Linked DNA regions of Homo sapiens: region 1 is linked to region 2. The links come from fine-mapping of genetic effects on plasma protein levels. A gene starts in region 2. The other region holds a variant in brackets. All regions are shown on one strand. Distances are from middle to middle.

Region 1 (10,536 bases), 90 kb after region 2:
CGGTGTCGCCCGTACACGTCGTGCAGCAGAGCATGACGGAAAGGACTCTGCTGGAACGACTGGCGGCACAGACTTAAGGCCGGACTCCACTCCCCACCCTCTGTAGTTGGGGCTTCATACCCCTGAGCTATGATGGCACCTTATTGTGAAAACGCCCTGAAAGTGCGAAGAGGTCTCTAAGCCACAGGTGTGGCGATGTTGTTGTCATTACCAGGGACATTCCAGTAGGCGGCGATAGAGGGCAGTATGAGTGCCGCAACCACGCCCTACTTTTTCTAGAGCTGGGTTGTTAAATGATAGGGTTTGATAGGGTTTGAGGCCGAGTCAGAGTTTAAGAATGGTGGAATTTAAACTTTAAAGCTAGGAGTTTTCATCTGAGATTCCTACCGGAAATACACAAGGGTTTGTAGCAGTGGTGAAGGTCAGGAAGTGAATTCCTTGAAATAGTATATAAAAATAAAAACGTAAATTTCTCTGCACTTGTAGGGAGAGAAGGTCCATAGCTTTCATCAAAGAATTTGGTGAATCCTTGCCTTAGGGGTTGGGGCTCCGGGCCAGGGACAACATAGTATAACAATAATGCAGAACTGTAGAGCCAGACTTTCTGGTTTCACATCTTTACCTCTCTAAATCCTTCCTATGTCATCTTAGGCAATGCACTTAACCTGTTTCAGACTCAGTTTCTTTATCTATAAAATGAAGATAACAGCTGTGCTGACTTTTTAATAGACATTCTGACTGGCATAAGATGGTACCTCGTTGTTTTCATTTGCTCTTCTCTGATGATTAGTGATGTTGAGCATGTTTTCCTTTTTTAATTTTACTTTAAGTTCTGGGATACATGTGCAGAATGTGCAGGTTTGTTACACAGGTATACATGTGCCATGGTGGTTTGCTGCACCCATCAACCCATCATCTAGGTTTTAAGCCCCTCATGCATTAGGTATTTGTCCTAATGCTCTCCCTCCTCTTCCCCCACCCCGACAGGCTCCAGTGTGTGATGTTTCCCTCCCTGTTTTCATGTGTTCTCACTGTTCAACTCCCACTTATGAGGGAGAACATGTGGTGTTTGGTTTTCTGCTCCTGTGTTAGTTTGCTGAGAATGATGGTTTCCAGTTTCATCCATGTCCCTGCAAAGGACATGGACTCATCCTTTTTTATGGCTGCATAGTATTGCATGGTGTGTATGTGCCACATTTTCTTTATCCAGTCTATCATTGATGGACATTTGGCTTGGTTCCAAGTCTTTGCTATTGTAAATAGTGTTGCAATAAACATACATGTGCATGTGTCTTTATAGTAGAATGATTTATAATCCTTTGAGTATATACCCAGTAATGGAATTGCTGGGTCAAATGTTATTTCTGGTTCTAGATACTTGAGGAATCACCACACTGTCTTCCACAATGGTTGAATTAATTTACACTCCCGATAACAGTGTAAAAGCGTTCATCCCATTCAAGACATAGGCATGGGCAAAGACTTCATGACTAAAACACCAAAAGCAATAGCAACAAAAGCCAGAATTTACAAATTGGATCTAATTAAACTAAAGAGCTTCTGCACAACAAAAGAAACTATCGTCAGAGTGAACAGGTAACCTACAGAATGGGATAAAATTTTTCCTATGTTTATGTTGGCCACTTATGTGCTTTCTTTTGAAAAATGTCTGTTCATGTATTTTGCCCACTTTTTAATTGGTTATTTGTGTTTGTTTCTTGTTCAGTTGTTTGAGCTCCTTGTAGATTCTGGATATTAGTCTTTTGTTGGATGCCTAATTTGCAAATATGTTATTCTATTCTGTAGGTTGTCTGTTTACTTCATTGATTAAGAAATTCCACAAAGTTTTGCTCTTCGTCTCTCTTTATGTACTTGAATAGACAACATCTATTAGCAGAGTGTGTGTCAGAGACAGCCCTTAGCACACTTATAAGGTTTATCTCATTGACTCTTTTCAGCATCTCTCTGAAGCATGTACTATTATTATCTCTATTTTACAGGTGAGAAAACCGATGGACAGAGAAATGAGGTAACTTGACTAACATCACACAGCTGGCAAAGAGCAGAGCTTCAATAGGAACTCAGGCAGTCTAATTCCAGAGGCCATACTCTTTTAGCCCATACATTTGTGTTGTTTTGCTTTGTGACTAAAAGCCAGACTCTAGATCTAGTTTTTCTGCTGAGTTCAAATTCCAGCATTACCACTTTCTAGTTGTGTGACTTTGGGCAAGTGACTTCACCTCTCTAAGCCTCAGTTTCCTCATTTGTGAAATGGAAGAACAATAGTAAGGCTGATGTGAAGATTAAATGAGTTATTTATGTAAAATACTTACAATAATGTTTGAAACCAGGTAAGTAGTATGTAAATGTCTCAGTTCCCCAGGCAAGATTGGTGGGAAATCAAAAGTCAGTCTTTTTTTTTTTTTTTTTCCTTGCAGCTTTCTAACATTACACAGAACTGCCAGGCTTAAACCAGGTTTAAGTAGTCCAGAAAAAAAAAATGGGTTATGTAGTCTTCAGCAGTCCCTCATGGCTGCCTTCTGGTGCTCACTGGTCATGTCCCAAGTGGTCCATTTCAAGGCTTTGTAATCCTTCAGTGCCAAGTCTCTAACAGGAGCTCACAATCTGATTTATTATGCTATACTGCCCCCTTCTGTGGATTATAGGTAATCAGTAACTATAGGGCTTACAGGCTGAGTTTCTCACATGCTTAATAAATGGTAGTGATTTTGTTTTATTAGCTTTAACGCTCACTCCTATTAGCGTGACTCCCAACCCTTAATGTTACCATGAGCAAACTAAAACAGGGAATAAGGGCATCTATCAAGGGCACATAAATAGTAAGTGATGGAAGTCTGGATTTGAATTCAAGCTTTGATAATTCTCACATTCCCAACTTTTAATTTTTATTGTATGTCTCTTTTTTAAATATTTCTGAATATGATCACATATAAGGACTGTCTATTTCCTACTTTAAAATCTTTTTCTCCTTTAGGAAGTCTTCCTGTATTCTGGCATATTATATTGTACTTCTATGTTGACTATTTTTAAGTTGTTTATGGAGGCGTGTATTATCCTCTATTTTTAGGTAGCTGAATAAAAAGAATGAGTTTTCCAATTCCTTGTTGAATTGGTTTCTAGAAAAAATGCCATTTAGTGAGAATATACTAAAATTCAAGAAACTCAGTTAAAAGGAGACTGGAGAAGAGCACTGAGATAAGTAACTCATGGACCCTGGTAAAGTATACTTGATAATAATAGGTGTTTAAAAAAGTCAACATCTCAAGAGCATGATTTATTTCTTATAAAAGATTACATCCCTCACAATCTAGCTCAATGCCTTATTTATAGTAAGAACTCAGGAAATATTTGTTGAATTGCCATTTAGAGTTTGCTGATAGGCTTCAGTCAATTTCAATCAAGTAATAATATATTTCCTCTGGATAGCTAGAAATGAAAATATTCTAATAAGAAAGATTTGCAGGTCATGAAAAATTTAACCTTTTACATGCAGACTTGTATCTTCATATTTTTAATAATAAGAATCACTGCAAAGTTAATAAGACAGTTCTGGGTTTTAATGTAGTAATAATAAATATGTAATGTTATTTGATTTTTCTTATTAAAGTGAGAGTCTTCTATAAGAATAATCATGAGGCATTGATAGAGGTGGAGTCAAAGATGTACATATAGCTTTGTGTGTCACAGCACTGATCAAATAATGAGTCTGAAGCTCATTATTATCATATATCATAACTTATTTTATTTATTAATGGTTTTGCCTCTCTTCTCTAAAAATTGAGAGAGATGTGGTTAAGTATAATATGGAAGACAGTAGCATAATTGTTTTCTATTTTGTAAACTTAATGGGTAAATCAAAAGCCAAGCAGCTGTTTAAAAAGTAATAATTTTATCTTTTAGAAAATCCTTATCAATATCAGATGTAAAGCAGTGTAATGAGAAGACCACTAAACTGGGAGTCAAAAGCATTTTATTCTGGTCCCAGCTCAACTTCTTGTTTGTGTGATCCCCTACTAGTTCCATGCTCTCCTCTCTGACCTTCAGTTTTCTCGTTTGTAAAATGAAGATTACAATGCCCATAAGGTTTTAGTGAGATTCAGTGAAACTGCTTTGTCAAAGTGTTGTACAAATTAGAAATAGTGTTATAGTAAGGCATCGGTAATGTTTTCTTTTTCTTGTCAAGAGTCTTCTAATGCTATCAGTTATTTTAACATCTGTAACATAAGACACCACATCAGTATCATTGTAAGCTTTAATCTACACTTGAATCACACCGGTATTAAGTCAATTGATGATATACAAAGGAGCAGTATCCATCATCACTCCAAAAAATTGTGCTGGTACATATTGGAGAGTGCTTGCTCTTAGCGTCCAAATTTATTTTTGTAAAAAAAAAAAAAACAGACATGCCTATAAACACAACACTAAGTTAAAAATTTCTATACGCCCTAGGTTTAATATGAAAGTCTACAGCCCTTTGCCTGTTTACTTCACTACAATGTAACAGCCTTTTTTCATTTCATAAATATCCTCTCATCTAATTCCACTCTAAATAACAGTGAGTTAGAACTATAATAATTCAAAACAGATTGCAAAGATAAATGCTTGAGAGGATGGAAACCCCATTCTCCATGATGTGCTTAGTTCACACTGTATGCCTGTATCAAAATATCACATTGCCCCATAAATACAAACACCTATTATGTACCCACAAAAATTTAAACAAATACTTAAGAAAACAGATTGCAAAACTAACAGGTGTACACAAGGAATACTAACATTACTATGTAACCATCATACCTTCTGATATCCACAGTATCCTTCCTATACTAACAATTTTGTACAGCTGTCTCTATAATACAAATAATTATAGAAATACAAGTTAATTGTACTTTAACACTGCAATCATGTAGAAAAGAATAAGTCTTTTGGATATTTTGTAGTTCTTTTTTCCTCCAGATGGAGATAGTCTGGTAAGACTCCTTGCTTCATGGTAGTAATCAAGGAAGGAAGTGTAAGAACTAAGACTTAAAGGATTAATTAAACATACATAATTGGAAGAAAAGACACTTCAGGCTGAGAGAGCAGTATATGCAAATGGCAATTTGGAGGGACAAGTAGGAGGGCAGGAAGGGGATTACCAACTCTAAGTTATAGGGGAACTGTGTGATATGAAGTTGAAGAGGTGGAATGGGACAAGGCCATGAGGGCCTCATACGCTATCCAAGGAGTTTGAATTTTATCTTTAAGGTAATGCGGAATCACTAATGTATTTTGAGTTATTAGTGTGTAAAAAAGGTCACTCTGGCTTCTTTGTAGAGATTGGTTAAGGAAAATTGAGAGCAGAGACAGGAAAACAAGATAAAAGGTTGTTGCAGTAACCCAGGCAAGAGATGTCATGTACCTCTACTAACAAAGTGGCAGGATAGGACTGACCAGACTTGGCAACAGTTCAGATGTGGGGGCAGCTC[C/T]CAGGTTTGTGACTTCAATGCCATGCCTTTTATCCAGTACTCATCACCTTTATGCAAATGATCTCCAACTATGTTTCCTGTAGCTTGGTCAAAATAATAGAACAGTCAACTTCAGTCAGCAGATGGCACATTAATCACTTGATTATTTCGGGTGGTTTCTCCATTGAACAACCTCTACCTCAGTGGATTGGCATTTTTTACTTAGCATAATTCCCTGTAGATTCATCAAAATTATCTTATGTAACTATAGTTCATTCCCTCTTATTGCTGAATAGTACTCCATAATTTATGTGTGCAGCACGGTTTGTTTAACCAGTTTGGGGTTATTACCAATGTAGCTAATATGAACCTTTATGTACAGTTTTCTATGTAGATATAAAGTTTCATTTATCTGGGGTAAATATTCAGGAGTCCAAATGCTATGTCATTTGGTAAATATATGCATAGGTTTTCTTTAAGTTTGTTTAACTGCCAGTCAGAGTTGGTTTATTTTTTTATATTCTCACAAGCCATATGGGAAAGATTCAATTTGTATCTTCACCAGCATCTGGTATTGTCATTATGTTTTTACTTTACCTTTACTGTTAGGTGTGTAGTGATATCACAGTAGAATTTTAATTTGCATTTACCTATTGCCCAATTATGCTAAACATATTTTTATGTGTGCATTTTAAAATATTTATTTATTTATTTACTTATTTATTTATTTTATAGAGACAGGGTCTAGCTGTGTCACCCAGGTTGGAGTGCACTGACATGATCATAGCTCACTGCAGCCTCAAATACCTGGGCACAAGCAATCCTTCCACTTCAGCCTCCTAAGTAACTAGTTCTACAGATGCACGCCATCACACCTGGTTAATTTTTTTTAAAAAATGTAGAGATAGGGTCTCTCTTTTTTGCCCAGGCTGGTCTTGAACTCCTGTCCTCAAGTGATCCTCCAACCTCAGCCTCTCAAAGTGCTGGAATTACAGGCATGAGCCACTGCATCTGGCTCATATATTCACTTTTTATCTGTTTATCCTCTTCAATAAAATGTCTCATCATGACTGTTACTCATTTTCTTTAAAATAATATTTTATATATTTTAAATGACATAAATTATACATATTAATGGGGTACATAGTGCCTTTCAGTAGATACAATGTATAGTGATCAAATCAGGATAATTAACATACCCATCACCTCAAGCATTTATCATTGATTTTGGTTGAAAACTTTCAAAATTCTCTCTTCTAGCCATTTAAAAATATGTAATAAATTATTCTTGGCTACAGACACCCTACAGTGCTATAGAACACTAGAATTTATTTCTACTTCTAGGTTAAATTTTGTATCCTTTAATCAATTGCTTCCTATCCCCTCTTCTCACTACACTTTCAGCTTCCAGTAACCACTATTCTACTCTTTACTTCTATGAGATCAACTTTTTTCGGTTCTGCATATGAGAGAAAACATGTATTATTTGTATTTCCCTCCCTGGCTTATTTCATTTAATGTAATGTCCTCCAGGCTCATCCATGTGGTCACCAATGAGAGGATTTCATTCTTTTTAAATGGCTGAATAGTATTCCATTCTGTATATATACCACATTTTTTTCTCTATGCATGTTGATGAATACTTACATTGATTCCATACCTTGGCTTCTATGAACAGTACTGCAGTAAACATGGTGGCATAATATCTCCTTCATATACTGATTTCCTTTACTTTGGGTATATACCCAGTAATGGGATGACTGGATCATATTTTATTTCTATTTTTAGTTTTTTTGAGGAATGGCCATACTGTTACCTATAATTCCTGTTCTAGTTTACATTCCCATGAACAGTATATAAAAGTTCCCTTTTCCTCATATACTCACCAGGAATTGTTAATTTTGGAATTTTTGACAATAGGCATTCTGACTGGAAAAATAAGATATCTCATTGTGGTTTTGACATACATTTCCCTGATGATTAATGATGTTGAAGAGGTTTTTTTTTTTTTCATATATTTGTTGTCCATTTGGATGTCTTCTTTAGAGAAATGTCCATTCAGATTACTTGCCCATTTTAAATTGAATTATTATTATTATTTGCTTTGGAATTGTTTGAGTTCCTTCTATATTCTGGATATGACTACCTTGTTGAATGAATAGTTTGCAAACATTTTCTTTCATTCTTCTCCACTCTAATGATTGTTTTCTTTGTAGTGAAGAAAACTTATAGTTTGATAGAATTCTATTTGTCTATTCTTGTTTTTGTTGCCTGTGCTTTGAGGTCATATTTATAAAATATTCAGGCACGGTGGCTCATACCTGTAATCTCAGCACTATGGGAGACTGAGGCAGGTGGATCACTTGACGTCAGGAGATCGAGACCAGCCTGGCCAATACAGTGACATCCCGTCTTTACTAAAAAATAAAAAATAAAAACAATTAGCTAGGTGTGATGGTACATGCCTGTAAACCCAGCTACTAGGGAGGCTGAGGTAGGAGAATCTCTTGAACCAGGGAGGTTGCAGTGAGCTGAGATTGTGCCTCTGCACTCCAGCCCGGGTGACAGAGTGAGACTCCATCTCAAAAAAAAAAAAAAAAAAAAAATCCCCAGACAAATGACCTGAAGATTTTTGAATTGATTTTTTATAAGGTAAAAGGTAGGTCTAGTTTCATTTTTTCTATGTGTGGATAACCAATTTTTCAGCACCATTTATTGAAGAGACTGTCTTTTTCCTAATGAAGGTTCTTGACACCTTTTTCGAAAGTCATTTAGTAGTAACTACATGGGTTTATTTCTGGGTTCTGTATTTTATTTTGTTGGCCTATGTCTGGTTTTTTTATGACAGTGCTGTGCTGTTGTAGTTACTATAGCTTTATAATATATTTTGATACCTGGTAATGCGATGCCTCCACCTTTGTTTTGTTTTTGTTTGTTTGTTTTTTGTTCAGGATTTCTAAGGCTATTCAGTGTCTTTTGTAGTTTCAAGAAATTTAGAAATGTTTTTCTTCTATTTCTGTGAAGAATGTTATTGGTAGTTTGATAGCGATTGCATTGAATCTGTAGATTGTTTTGGGTAGTATGGTTATTTTAATATGTTATTTCTTCAAGTCCATGAACATAGACTATATTTTCATTTTTTTTCGTACCCTTCAATTTCTTTCATCAGTATTTTACAGTTTGTCTTGTAGAGACCTTTCACCTCCTCAATTAAATTTATTCCTAGGTAATTTTTTTCTAGCTAGTATACATTGAATTGTTTTCCTGATTTCTTTTTCAGTTAATTCCTTTTTGGTGTATAAAATTGATACTGATTTCTGTATGATGATTTTCTATTCTGCAAATTTACTGAATTTGTTTATCAGTTTTAAGAGTTTTTTGGTGTAGTGTTTAGGTTTTCTATATATAAAATTATGCTATCTGCAATGAGTGACAATTTGACTTCCTCCTTTTTCAATTGGATTACCTTTATTTATTTATTTTGCTTAATTGCTCTGGCTAAGACTTTCAATATGATGATTCATAAGAGTAGTAAAAGTTGGCATCCTTGTCTTCCTCCAGTTCTTAGAAGAAAATCTTTGTGGCCTTTACTATGTTGAGATATATTTCTTTTACAACTAATTTGTGAAGTTTTTATAATGAAGGAATGTTGCATTTTATCTATTTTTCTTCATCTATTGAGGTGATCATATGGTTTTTATCCTTCATTCTGTTGATGTTATGTAACATGTTTGTTGATTTGTATATATTGAACTACCTTTACATCACTTGGGTAAATACAACTTGATCATGGTGTATTATCTTTTTGATGTGCTCTTGGATTTGGTTTGCTAGTGTTTTGTTGAGGATTGTTGCATCTATGTTCATCTGAGATATTGGTCTGTAGTTTTTGTTGTTGTTGTTGGGTTCTATCTGGTTCTGGTATAAGGGTTATGCTGGTTTCATAGAATGAGTTTAGAAGTATTTCCCCTTCAATTCTTTGGAACAGTTTAAGAAGAAGTGGTATTCATTCTTCTTTAAAAGTTTGGTGGAATTCAACAATTAAGTAATCTGTCCCTGGGCATTCCTTTCTTGGGAGACCTTTTGTTAATGATTAAATGTCATTAATCATTATGGGACTGTTCAGGTTTTATATCTTTTCTTTGTTCTAACTGGTAAGTTGTATGTATCCAAGAATTTATGCATTTTCTAATTTGTTGGTATATAGTTGTTCATAATAGACTCTAATGATCCTTTGCATTTCTTTCATATCTGTTGGGATGTTTTCTTTTTCATTTCTGATTTTATTTATCTGGGTCTTACCTCTTTTTTCTTAGTCTAGCTAATGGTTTGTTAATTTTGTTTATGCTTTCAAAAACCACAGCTTTTCATTTTGTTGATCTTTTGCATTTTTTAGCCTCAATTTTGTTTATTTCTACTCTGTTTGTAATTGTTTCTTTTCCTCCATTATCTTTTGGTTTGATTTGTTTTTTCTTTCCTAGTTTTTGAGGTGAATTTTTATGTTACTTATTTTAAATCTTTCTACTTTTTTTTTCAACTTTTATTTTAGATTCAGGAAGTACATGTGCAGGTTTGGTACCTGGGTGTATTGTGTGGTGCTGAGTTTTGGAGTAAGAATGGCCCAGTCACCCAGGTAATGAGCATAGTACGCAACAGTTAGTTTTTCAACTCTTGCCCATCTCCCTCCCTCCCACTTCCAGTAGTCTCCATTGTTTATTGTTGCCATCATTACGTTCATCAGTATCCATCGTTTAGCACCCACTTATAAGTGAGAACATGGTTTTATGTTTCTATGCTAATTTGCTTATGATAATGGTCTCCAACTTCATCCATGCTTTGGATGCAGCAAAGGACATGATTTCATCTATTTTTATGGTCCACCTTTGATGAGCACCTAGGGTGATTCTGTGTCTTTTCTGTCATGAATAGTACTGTGATGTACATGAGAATGCATGTGTTTTTTTGGTAAAATTATTTGTTTTCTTTTGGATATATACCCAGTAATGGGAGTGCTGGGTTGAATGGTAGTTCTAAGTTCTTTGAGAAATCTCCAAACTGCTTTTCA
Region 2 (10,349 bases):
GCAGTTCTGCTTTCCTCAGGATGCTCCACAAGTCTGATCCACTGTCCCCGCCTTCACTAACACCCAGCCTCCTTCTCTTCTTTATCTCCCAACCCTAGATGCTCAAGGTTGTTGGACACGTCCAGGCATGTTCTCAGAGGCAATGCAGGTCCAGTAAGAGCCTACAGGAAATGGCTCGCCAAGATCCTAGAGATGTCAGCCCAGATCCCTGATACCTCAGAAAGCGCTCTCCGGACACAAATGGATGGACTGACAGCCAGCCACAGGGCGCCTTCCCAATTGTTCTGATTTTGCGGTACCCTAGCAGGATCATCCTGACCTGATTCTGTACTTCTGCACCTAGATGCCGCAGGTCCCAGCCGCCTTGCCACACCAGGGGGTGTTCCCACACTCACCCGGTAACGGACGAGTAGATGGCTCTTGCTCCCAAATGGGACTCCGGTACAAATCCACCTCAGCGCAGAGCACACATCTCACCCAGCCCCCTCCCGTCACCCCCCGCCCTTCACCCCGCGCCCCTCAGCCCCCGCCCCTCAGACCCGCCCATCAGCCCCGCCCCTCAGCCCCCGCCCCTCAGCCCCCAGCCTGCATACACACTCACAGTATATGAAATTCCTTGTAATCAAAGTTCCGCTTGACTCATTTCACATCCACGTGTAGCAACAACAGCCCAAACCCTCCTTTCACGGTAAGCTTACCTCTTCCGCCCCCGTGAAGTTCCTAGAGCAGCTATTGGACTGTTTGAGTGCCTAGGCGTGGCTACGAAAAGAAACTGCCTTTGAGAGGAACAATGTGAGGCTGAAGAACAGTGACCCAGCCACTGGTATGGCAGGAGCTGCAAATCTCCTGGGACTGAAGCGGGGGCCAGAGAGTAGAGGGCCAGGGAGTGGGGTCCAGAGAAAGCATCAAGTTGTCTCTTTCACAGCTGAATGCAGCTCAGCTCATCAAAGTTTATTCATGACTTAGCAGGCTTGGAGTTTGACAGGGAAAATTATTGTTGGAAAAGCCAAAATTTTCAGACACATGGAGAAGCCGCTTTCCAGCTCTGCATCTGCCTCAAAAAAATACTCCTCCATTCAGAAGGGTAGATAGGATTGTGACAGGAGGAAGAGAGCAGACATGAAGCAGGGAAAAGACCACTAAAAATAAAGGAAAATTGGATTCGGCACTCAGCTTTGATCATCCATCTTCTCTGGGCCCCTGAGTGTCTGTACAAGGAGGGGGTTGAGCTACGTAGTCTCTAAGGGCACTTCAAACAATGACACTTTGGGAGTTTATTAATCCATGATCTCAGAGGCAGCGGTGGATAAATCCCGAAACGTTACTAGTCCCTGACCTTGAAGAGTTTGCAGAGCTGGGAAGATAAAGTAGACCGGACAGAGACAGAGAATTAAGGGCCAAACTATGAGGTGCAGACTGGAAGGGTTTGGGGGCCAGTAGGAAGAAGGAGTAAAAAAGAGTCTGACAAGGAAAGCAAATGCTTTTCAATAGATTAGGAGCTTTTAAAAGAGGTCAAAGAGGAAATAGCCTAATGGGTAGAGGAAAAGAAAAGCTTGAGCCAAGGTATGGGGGAGAGGACCAAGAAATGAGCCATTATCAGTCTCTGAGGGACCCCTCCTGTACTGGGCAGAGGCTATATGCCAGCTCAGGGTGGAGTCTCAGTAAAGCAGCTGAAAAGCCTTTGGTGGGAAAGGGCTGAATAGGCCCTAAGCTGAAGTAGAAAAAGTCCTAAATGAACTTCATATCTGTCCCCTAGCTAGAGTTAAGACCAGAATAGGCTACTGTGGGCTCAGGCCTAGTAGAAGGGAAAACTGCCAGAATTGGAATCCTAGGTCTGCCCCTTACTAGCTTTGTGACCTAAGGCAAGTTACTTAACCACTCTGTGGCTCAGGATTCTCTTCTGTAAAGTGGGGAAAATAACAATCCCTTACTCATAGGATTGTTTTAGGTATTATATGAGTTAATATACAAAATAGTGTTCATATGCGTAAGGAGCTTAGAATGATTTCTGGGACGTAGTGGTATAGAAGTGTTTATTAAATATAAATAAATACATGAATGCAATTTAGGGACCTCTGAAATCATCTGTGAGATTCAAATGAAAATAGCTACCCTGGGTACCTCCTAATTCTGTTCTGTCCTTTCCTAGAAAACAGGACCTCTTCTTTTTCTCCATCCTTTCCTACCCAGAGAAGCTGAATTACAGACAGTTTTGAAACTTTAGTGTAAAGAACCCTAGCTTGGAATTTAGATGTCTTGACAAAACTAAGTGTAACATCATGTAAATCTCTTCCTCTCTCTTAGTTTTCCTTTCTGCATCTGTATCCTGAAGAGACTGTTGGACTGGATGACCTTGAAACGCTAGAGCCGTGCTTCTCTCATATTAATGTGCACACAAATCACCTAAGGATCTTGTTAAAACACAGATTCTGAGTTAGCAGCTGTGGTGTGGGACTAAGACTCTGATTTTCTAACTGCTTCCAGGTGATATTGATGGTGCTGGGCCACAGACCATAGTTTTAGTAGCAAAGGTTTAGAAGGTGGACAAGAATAACATTTACTGAGCACCTATAAATCATGCATATGTGTCCCTTTATACCTTACAACCATTCTATGAGGTTGAGGTTACCATCCTCATTTTGTAGATGAAGAGGCTCCTTGTACTCTGTGATTCTGCCTGGAAGTACAGGAGGAAACTTGAGATAGAGGTACCAGGGATATGTCAGAGTCCACAAGCTATTGTGGAAAGTGATTATAAGCAGCAAATATGAAACCACTGTCCTCCACCATAACTTGTCCAATAATACTATAACAGTTAGCTGGCCCTCACTAAGCACTTGCCAGGCACTGCTCAAATTTTTTTCATGAATTAATTCATTTTATCTTCATAATCTATGAAGCCACAATCATTAGAATTATCCTCCCCTCTCCTTTTGCTCACACCTCACATTCAACCCATCAGCACATCCTATCAGCTCTGCCTCCTGCCTCAGAGATAAACTCTGAATTTCACCAACTTCTTAGCACCTTCACTGCAACCACTCTGGTGCAAGCCACGATTACTTTTCACCTGAATTATTGCCATATCCTCCAATAGCTCTCCTTGCTCTCATGCTTACCCCACTCCAGTCAATTCTCAGCAGAGCAACCAGAATGATCCTTTTAAAAGTACATCAGTCTAAGTCTGTCCAAGCAATTCTACTGGTTGGCTTCTTATTCAGCAGAAAACCCAAAATCCTTAACTATGGTCTATAATAGTCTACAATCTATCCCACGCCATCCCATCCTCACTAACCTGCCCCTCTATCTCTGATCTCACCTCTTACCACTCGCCTTGACCACCATACCCAACCCCAACTGGCGGCCTTGATATTTTTTCCAACACTCAAAGCATGCTCAAGACTCTGGTCTTTGCACTTGCTGCTCCTTCAGCCTAGCCAATTCTTCCCCCAGATATCAGCATGGCTCCTTTTCTCACTTCCTCCATATCCCTGCTTAAATGTCACTTTATCAAAGTGGACTTTCTTGAATACCCTAGCTAGTACAAGCTAATGGGATTGCCTAGGCCTTTTGAAATCCACTGGGTAGGTGAGCTTTTTCTCAACATAGCCCCAGGACCCCCGGTGCAGTGTGGTGGTGAGTAGGGTTAAGGCTCTCAACTCTGCTCTCTGTGGGGGAGCCACTCTAGCTCCATGTGCTTGTGCAGCAGAACTAAGTTTGGATCAGCTAATTTCTTGGGGGCTTTCCACAGCCCCTCCTTTTATGATAAACAGGAGTCACTTTGTGAACCCAAACTGAGAACTATCAGTACAGAGTTTCTCTACCTACATTCTACTGCTGGAACCAGCCTAACCTGACAGCAGGATAGGCAGGACCAGCCTCCACTCTGCTTATCTCTGGGACCAGACAGATTCTGGGGCTCAGTGAGATTCAGGGCTCTCTGATGCCACCCCTCAGCTCTCTCTCAGAGGTTACTTAGGGTCACTCAGGGGAATACTGGCCTTGGCTGTGTCTCAGAGAATCCTGGGTAGCCTCTAATTCTAGTGTCCAACAATGGCAGGACCACCTTTCATGAAGGAGCTTCATGGTTATCCAGGCAGAATGGGGCCCTTATAGCTCCTCTCAAGACTGGGACCAGGGGGCAGGAAAAGAAGCTGAAAGACTAAGGGGATGCTGAGGCCTGTGGGGCAACCCCTGTAAACTCAAACATTGCTAAGGATGTCCCTGAACACAATATCAGCTTCTTGTTCTCTTTAGCCTGTGAGATGTGTGTAGATAAACTTGGCCATAAATGTTTGCTGCAGTGGTGTATACAGGCTTAGGTCTTCTGAATTAGAAAGCTGGGGTATAAGAGTTACTTCTAGCCATGGGAATTTTCAAACTTCAGCTAGATTCTAGCACAGTCCAATAGTGTTATCTCTCATTTTAAATAATCTTCTATTCCACTTGCCCAAGATGGCTTTTAAAACTCACTCTTCTTAAGTCAAGTGCTCAACACAGCTCCCAAACCCCTAGCAGATGACTTCACCTCCAGTTTCACCGAGAATGTAAAAGGGCACGAAACTTGAAGTCTAAACAACTTCTGACATCTCCACATTCAAGTTCATCCTGTTTCTTACCTCAGAGTTTCCTCCTGTCCCTCCTGTCTCCATCTGTGTTTACTCCTGTCTATTCCATTTTGCTTTATTTGTATCTTCATGGTCTTTCTTCCTCTGGCTCTTTCTCCTAAATTGTCTTTCCATTCTGAACTAAGATTAATTCTTTTCATATCCTCACCTCCACCTCTTCATTTCCAAACTCACTACATTTTGCTCTTCTCAAGGTCACCCATGATTTTCATACTATCAAACCCATGGATTCTTCTGTTTTCTTATTTGAATTATCTAAAACATCCAACATTGTCTGGATTCTTTTCTTTCTGACTCTCTTCCCTTGACTTTCATGGAACTAATGTCTTCTAGTTTCACTTATTTCTCTACAGCATTTTATGGATTCTCATTCTCCACTTGCCCCTCAAGTGCAGGGATTTTACAGAGTTCCTCCCACCCTCCATTGTCCCTCTGGCCTGATTCTAACTTCTCTCACTGGAGTGTGAACCTATGTGGCAGGGACCTTATATACCATTTCACAAATTTCCACATGCAAAACTGTACCTAGAGTATTTTAAGCGCTCAATACATTTTTACATATTATATATATCAATATATCTGTTGAATAAGCCCAAGGAGAAAAATGTTCACATTTGAATGTATCCTTCTATAATGAGCTCCCAGGCCTCAGGTGTGCCACAATAAAAATAAGATGGCTAAAAAGGAATTGAAACCCACACCCAAAATAATAATAATAGCCAACACTTGATCAATGCTTGATGAACTCTATATGTCAGGCCCTATGCCAAATGTTCTGTATGCAATAGCTCATTTAATCATCACAATAATCCTATGAGGCAAAAACCATGACATCACTCCTATTTTATAGATGACAAAATTGAGGCACAGAAACGATAGGTGACTTATCTATGCCATCTATCAGTGCCACAACCAATAAGTGGCAATTGACCCAGGATTCTCAAGAATAGCTGATGCCTTAATTATTCACTGTCACACTCAAATGTACAATCCTTGCTTTCCCTTCCAATCAGAGGCTCCTTCCATCCTCTCTGAAGAGCTATTCTAAACCTCTACCTTTAGAAGTAAAGGTTAAGTTCCTACTTTAGCACTGAATTCTTAGCCCAGAAACATTGACTCTTTTCTTCTTCATCAATAAAACAGATTCTATTAGGCATTTAGTGCCTATAACTTCTTCCCTAATTCCTATAAGGTTCTCTCTGTCTTCATTCATCTTGGCCTTTCCTCTTGAAGAAGAGGAGAGAATGCCTCCCCTGATATTTATGAATCTTTCTCCATCAATTACCCCCACTCTCTATGGCATCATTATTTACCTGTCTTCTGTGCCTACCCCTTTAACTCGTAAACATATTTGAATTCCTCCCACTACAAAATAAAATCAACCCTTCTACCACATTTCCTCTTTCTCAAACAACAGCCTCGTCTCATTTTTTTTCTTAGCCAAATTTCTGGATAGAGTTTTCTCTAATAACTGTTTCCATGACTTTAATTTCCATTAGCTCCCCAACCTACTATAATCTGGCTTCTAGCCCCATTTGTTCTCCCTAAAGCTACAGGGGACCACTTAACTGCCAAATTTTAGGAAACATTTTCTCTCATCTTTTTTTTTCTTTTTTTTATTATACTTTAAGTTTCAGGGTACATGTGCACAACATGCAGGTTTGTTACATATGTATACATGTGCCATGTTGGTGTGCTGCACCCATTAACTCATCATTTACATTAGGTGTATCTCCTAATGCTATCCCTCCCTCCTTCCCCCACCCCACAACAGGCCCCGGGTGTGATGTTCCCCTTCCCGTGTCCAAGTGTTCTCATTGTTCAATTCCCACCTATGAGTGAGAACACGTGGTGTTTGGTTTTTTGTCCTTGCGATAGTTTGCTAAGAATGATGGTTTCCAGCTTCATCCATGTCCCTACAAAGGACATGAACTCATCATTTTTTATGGCTGCATAGTATTCCATGGTGTATATGTGCCACATTTTCTTAATCCAGTCTATCATTGTTGGACATTTGGGTTGGTTCCAAGCCTTTGCTACTGTGAATAGTGCTGCAATAAACATACGTGTGCATGTGTCTTTATAGCAGCATGATTTATGCACCTTTGGGTATACATGCAGTAATGGGATGGCTGGGTCAAATGGTATTTCTGGTACTAGATCCCGGAGGAATAGCCACACTGACTTTCACAATGGTTGAACTACTTTACAGTCCCACCAACAGTGTAAAAGTGTCCCCATTTCTCCACATCCTCTCCAGCACCTGTTGTTTCCTAACTTTTTAGTGATCGCCCTTCTAACTGGTGTGAGATGGTATCTCATTGTGGTTTTGATTTGCATTTCTCTGATGGCCAGTGATGATGAGCATTTTTTCATGCCTCTGTTGGCTGCATAAATGTCTTCTTTTCAGAAATGTCTATTCATATCCTTCGCCCATTGTTGATGGGGTTGTCTGATTTTTCTTGTAAATTTGTTTGAGTTCATTGTAGATTCTGGATATTAGGCCTTTGTCAGATGAGTAGATTGCAAAAATTTTCTCCCATTCTGTAGGTTGCCTGTTCACTCTGATGGAAGTTGCTTTTGCTGTGCAGAAGCTCTTTAGTTTAATTATATCCCATTTGTCAAATTTGGCTTTTGTTGCCATTGCTTTTGGTGTTTTAGACATGAAGTCCTTGTCCATGCCTATGTCCTGAATGGTATTGCCTAGGTTTTCTTCTAGGGTTTTTATGGTTTTAGGTTTAACATTTAAGTCTTTAATCCGTCTTGAATTAATTTTTGTATAAGGTGTAAGGAAGAGGTCCAGTTTCAGCTTTCCACATATGGCTAGCCAGTTTTCCCAGCACCATTTATTAAACAGGGAATCCTTTCCCCATTTCTTGTTTTTATCAGGTTTGTCAAAGATCAGATAATTATAGATGTGTCGTATTATTTCTGAGGGCTCTGTTCTATTCCATTGGTCTATATCTCTGTTTTGGTACCAGTACCATGCTGTTTTGGTTACTGTAGCCTTGTAGTACAGTTTGAAGTCAGGTAGCATGATGCCTGCAGCTTTCTTCTTTGGCTTAGGATTGACTTGGCAATGTGGGCTCTTTTTTGGTTCCATATGAACTTTAAAGTAGTTTTTTCCAATTCTGTGAAGAAAGTCATTGGTAGCTTGATGGGGATGGCATTGAATCTATGAATTACCTTGGGCAGTATGGCCATTTTCATGATATTGATTCTTTCTATCCATGAGCATGGAATGTTCTTCCATGTGTTTGTATCCTCTTTTATTTCGTTGAGCAGTGGTTTGTAGTTCTCCTTGAAGAGGTCCTTCACATCCCTTGTAAGTTGGATTCCTAGGTATTTTATTCTCTTTGAAGCAATTGTGAATGGGAGTTCACTCATGATTTGGCTCTCTGTTTGTCTGTTATTGGTGTATAAGAATGCTTGTGATTTTTGCACATTGATTTTGTATCCTGAGACTTTGCTGAAGTTGCTTATCAGCTTAAGGAGATTTTGGGCTGAGACAATGGGGTTTTCTAGATATACAATCATGTCATCTGCAAACAGGGACAATTTGACTTCCTCTTTTCCTAATTGAATACCCTTTATTTCCTTCTCCTGCCTAATTGCCCTGGCCAGAACTTCCAACACTATGTTGAATAGGAGTGGTGAGAGAGGGTATCCCTGTCTTGTGCTGATTTTCAAAGGGAATGCTTCCAGTTTTTGCCTATTCAGTATGATATTGGCTGTGGGTTTGTCATAAATAGCTCTTATTATTTTGAGATACATCCCATCAATACCTAATTTATTGAGAGTTTTTAGCATGAAGGGGTGTTGAATTTTGTCAAAGGCCTTTTCTGCATCTATTGAGATAATCATGTGGCTTTTGTCGTTGGTTCTATTTATATGCTGGATTATGTTTATTGATTTGCATATGTTGAACCAGCCTTGCATCCCAGGGATGAAGCCCACTTGACCATGGTGGATAAGCTTTTTGATGTGTTGTTGGATTTGGTTTGCCAGTATTTTATTGAGGATTTTTGCATCAATGTTCATCAAGGAAATTGGTCTAAAATTCTCTTTTTTGGTTTTGTCTCTGACAGGCTTTGGTATCAGGATGATGCTGGCCTCATAAAGTGAGTTAGGGAGGATTCCCTCTTTTTCTATTCATTGGAATAGTTTCAGAAGGAATGGTACCAGCTCCTCTTTGTACCTCTGGTAGAATTCGGCTGTAAATCCATCTGGTCCTGGACTTTTTTTGGTTGGTAAGCTATCAATTATTGCCTCAATTAAGAACCTGTTATTGGTCTATTCAGAGATTCAACTTCTTCCTTGTTTAGTGTTGGGAGGGTGTATGTGTTGAGGAATTTATGCATTTCTTCTAGATTTTATAGTTTATTTGCGTACAGGTATTTATAGTATGCTCTGATGGTAGTTTGTATTTCTGTGGGATCGGTGGTGATCTCCCTTTTATCACTTTTTATTACATCTGTTTGATTCTTCTCGTTTCTTCTTTTTTAGTCCTGCTAGCAGTCTATTAATTTTGTTGATCTTTTCAAAAAACCAGCTCCTGGATTCATTGGTTTCTTTGAAGCTTTTTTTGTGTCTCTATCTCCTTCAGTTCTGCTCTGATCTTAGTTATTTCTTGCCTTCTGCTAGCTTTTGAATGTGTTTCCTCTTGCTTCTCTAGTTCTTTTAATTGTGATGTTAGGGTGTCAATTTTAGATCTTTTCTGCTTTCTCTTGTGGGCATTTAGTGGTATAAATTTCCCTCTACAAACTGCTTTAAATGTGTCCCAGAGATTCTGGTACGTTGTGTCTTTGTTCTCGTTGGTTTCAAAGAACATCTTTATTTCTGCCTTCATTTCGTTATGTACCCAGTAGTCATTCAGGAGCAGGTTGTTCAGTTTCCATGTAGTTGAGCGCCTTTGAGTGTGTTTCTTAATCCTGAGTTCTAGTTTGATTGCACTGTGGTCTGAGAGACAGTTGGTTATAATTTCTGTTCTTTTACATTTGCTGAGGAGTGCTTTACTTCCAACTATGCCGTCAATTTTGGAATAAGTGCGGTGTGGTGCTGAGAAGAATGTATATTCTGTTGATTTGGGTTGCAGAATTCTGTAGATGTCTATGAGGTCCACTTGGTGCAGAGCTGAGTTCAATTCCTGGATATCCTTGTTAACTTTCTGTCTCGTTGGTCTGTCTTTTGTTTAAATTTGGGTGTTAAAGTCTCCCATTATTATTGTGTAGGAGTCTAAGTCTCTTTGTAGGTCTCTAAGGGCTTGCTTTATGAATCTGGGTGCTCCTGTATTGGATGCATATATATTTAAGATAGTTAGCTCTTCTTGTTGAATTTATCCCTTTACCATTGTGTAATGGCCTTCTTTGTCTCTTCTGATCTTTGTTGGTTTAAAGTCTGTTTTATCAGAGACTAGGAATACAACCCCTGCCTTTTTTTTGTTTTCCATTTGCTTGGTAGATCTTCCTCCATCCCTTTATTTTATGCCTATGTGTGTCTCTGCACGTGAGATGGGTTTCCTGAATACAGCACACTGAGGGGTCTTGACTCTTTATCCAATTTGCCAGTCTGTGTCTTTTAATTGGAGGATTTAGCCCATTTGTATTTAAGGTTTATATTGTTATGTGTGAATTTGATCCTGTCATTATGATGTTAGCTGGTTATTTTGCTCGTTAGTTGATGCAGTTTCTTCCTTGCCTCAATGGTCTTTACAATTTGGCG

Alleles and levels. Alleles are on the strand shown, and positions count from the first base shown. The strength of an association depends on the size of the effect and on how common the allele is.
With allele C in place of T in region 1, the plasma level of the protein whose gene starts at base 479 in region 2 is higher (strong association).

What was found. PIP is the chance, under the fine-mapping model, that this variant and not a neighbour inherited with it causes the effect. The UK Biobank Pharma Proteomics Project read protein levels with antibody pairs (Olink). The fine-mapping took linkage between variants from a reference panel, not from the people measured, so its PIPs are less certain.
Region 1: its variant is fine-mapped to the plasma level of the EDA2R protein (UK Biobank, PIP 0.96).

What each region holds. Positions count from the first base shown.
Region 1 is chrX:66,728,961-66,739,496 of GRCh38, forward strand. No RefSeq gene overlaps it. Among named protein-coding and RNA genes, the nearest start is that of EDA2R, 95 kb to the left of the region's middle. The variant C/T (reference allele first, on the strand shown) is at 5,493.
Region 2 is chrX:66,638,600-66,648,948 of GRCh38, forward strand. EDA2R (ectodysplasin A2 receptor) reads right to left here and starts at 479. Exons shown (of 7, transcript NM_021783.5): 1 at 396-479. RefSeq lists an enhancer at 1-299.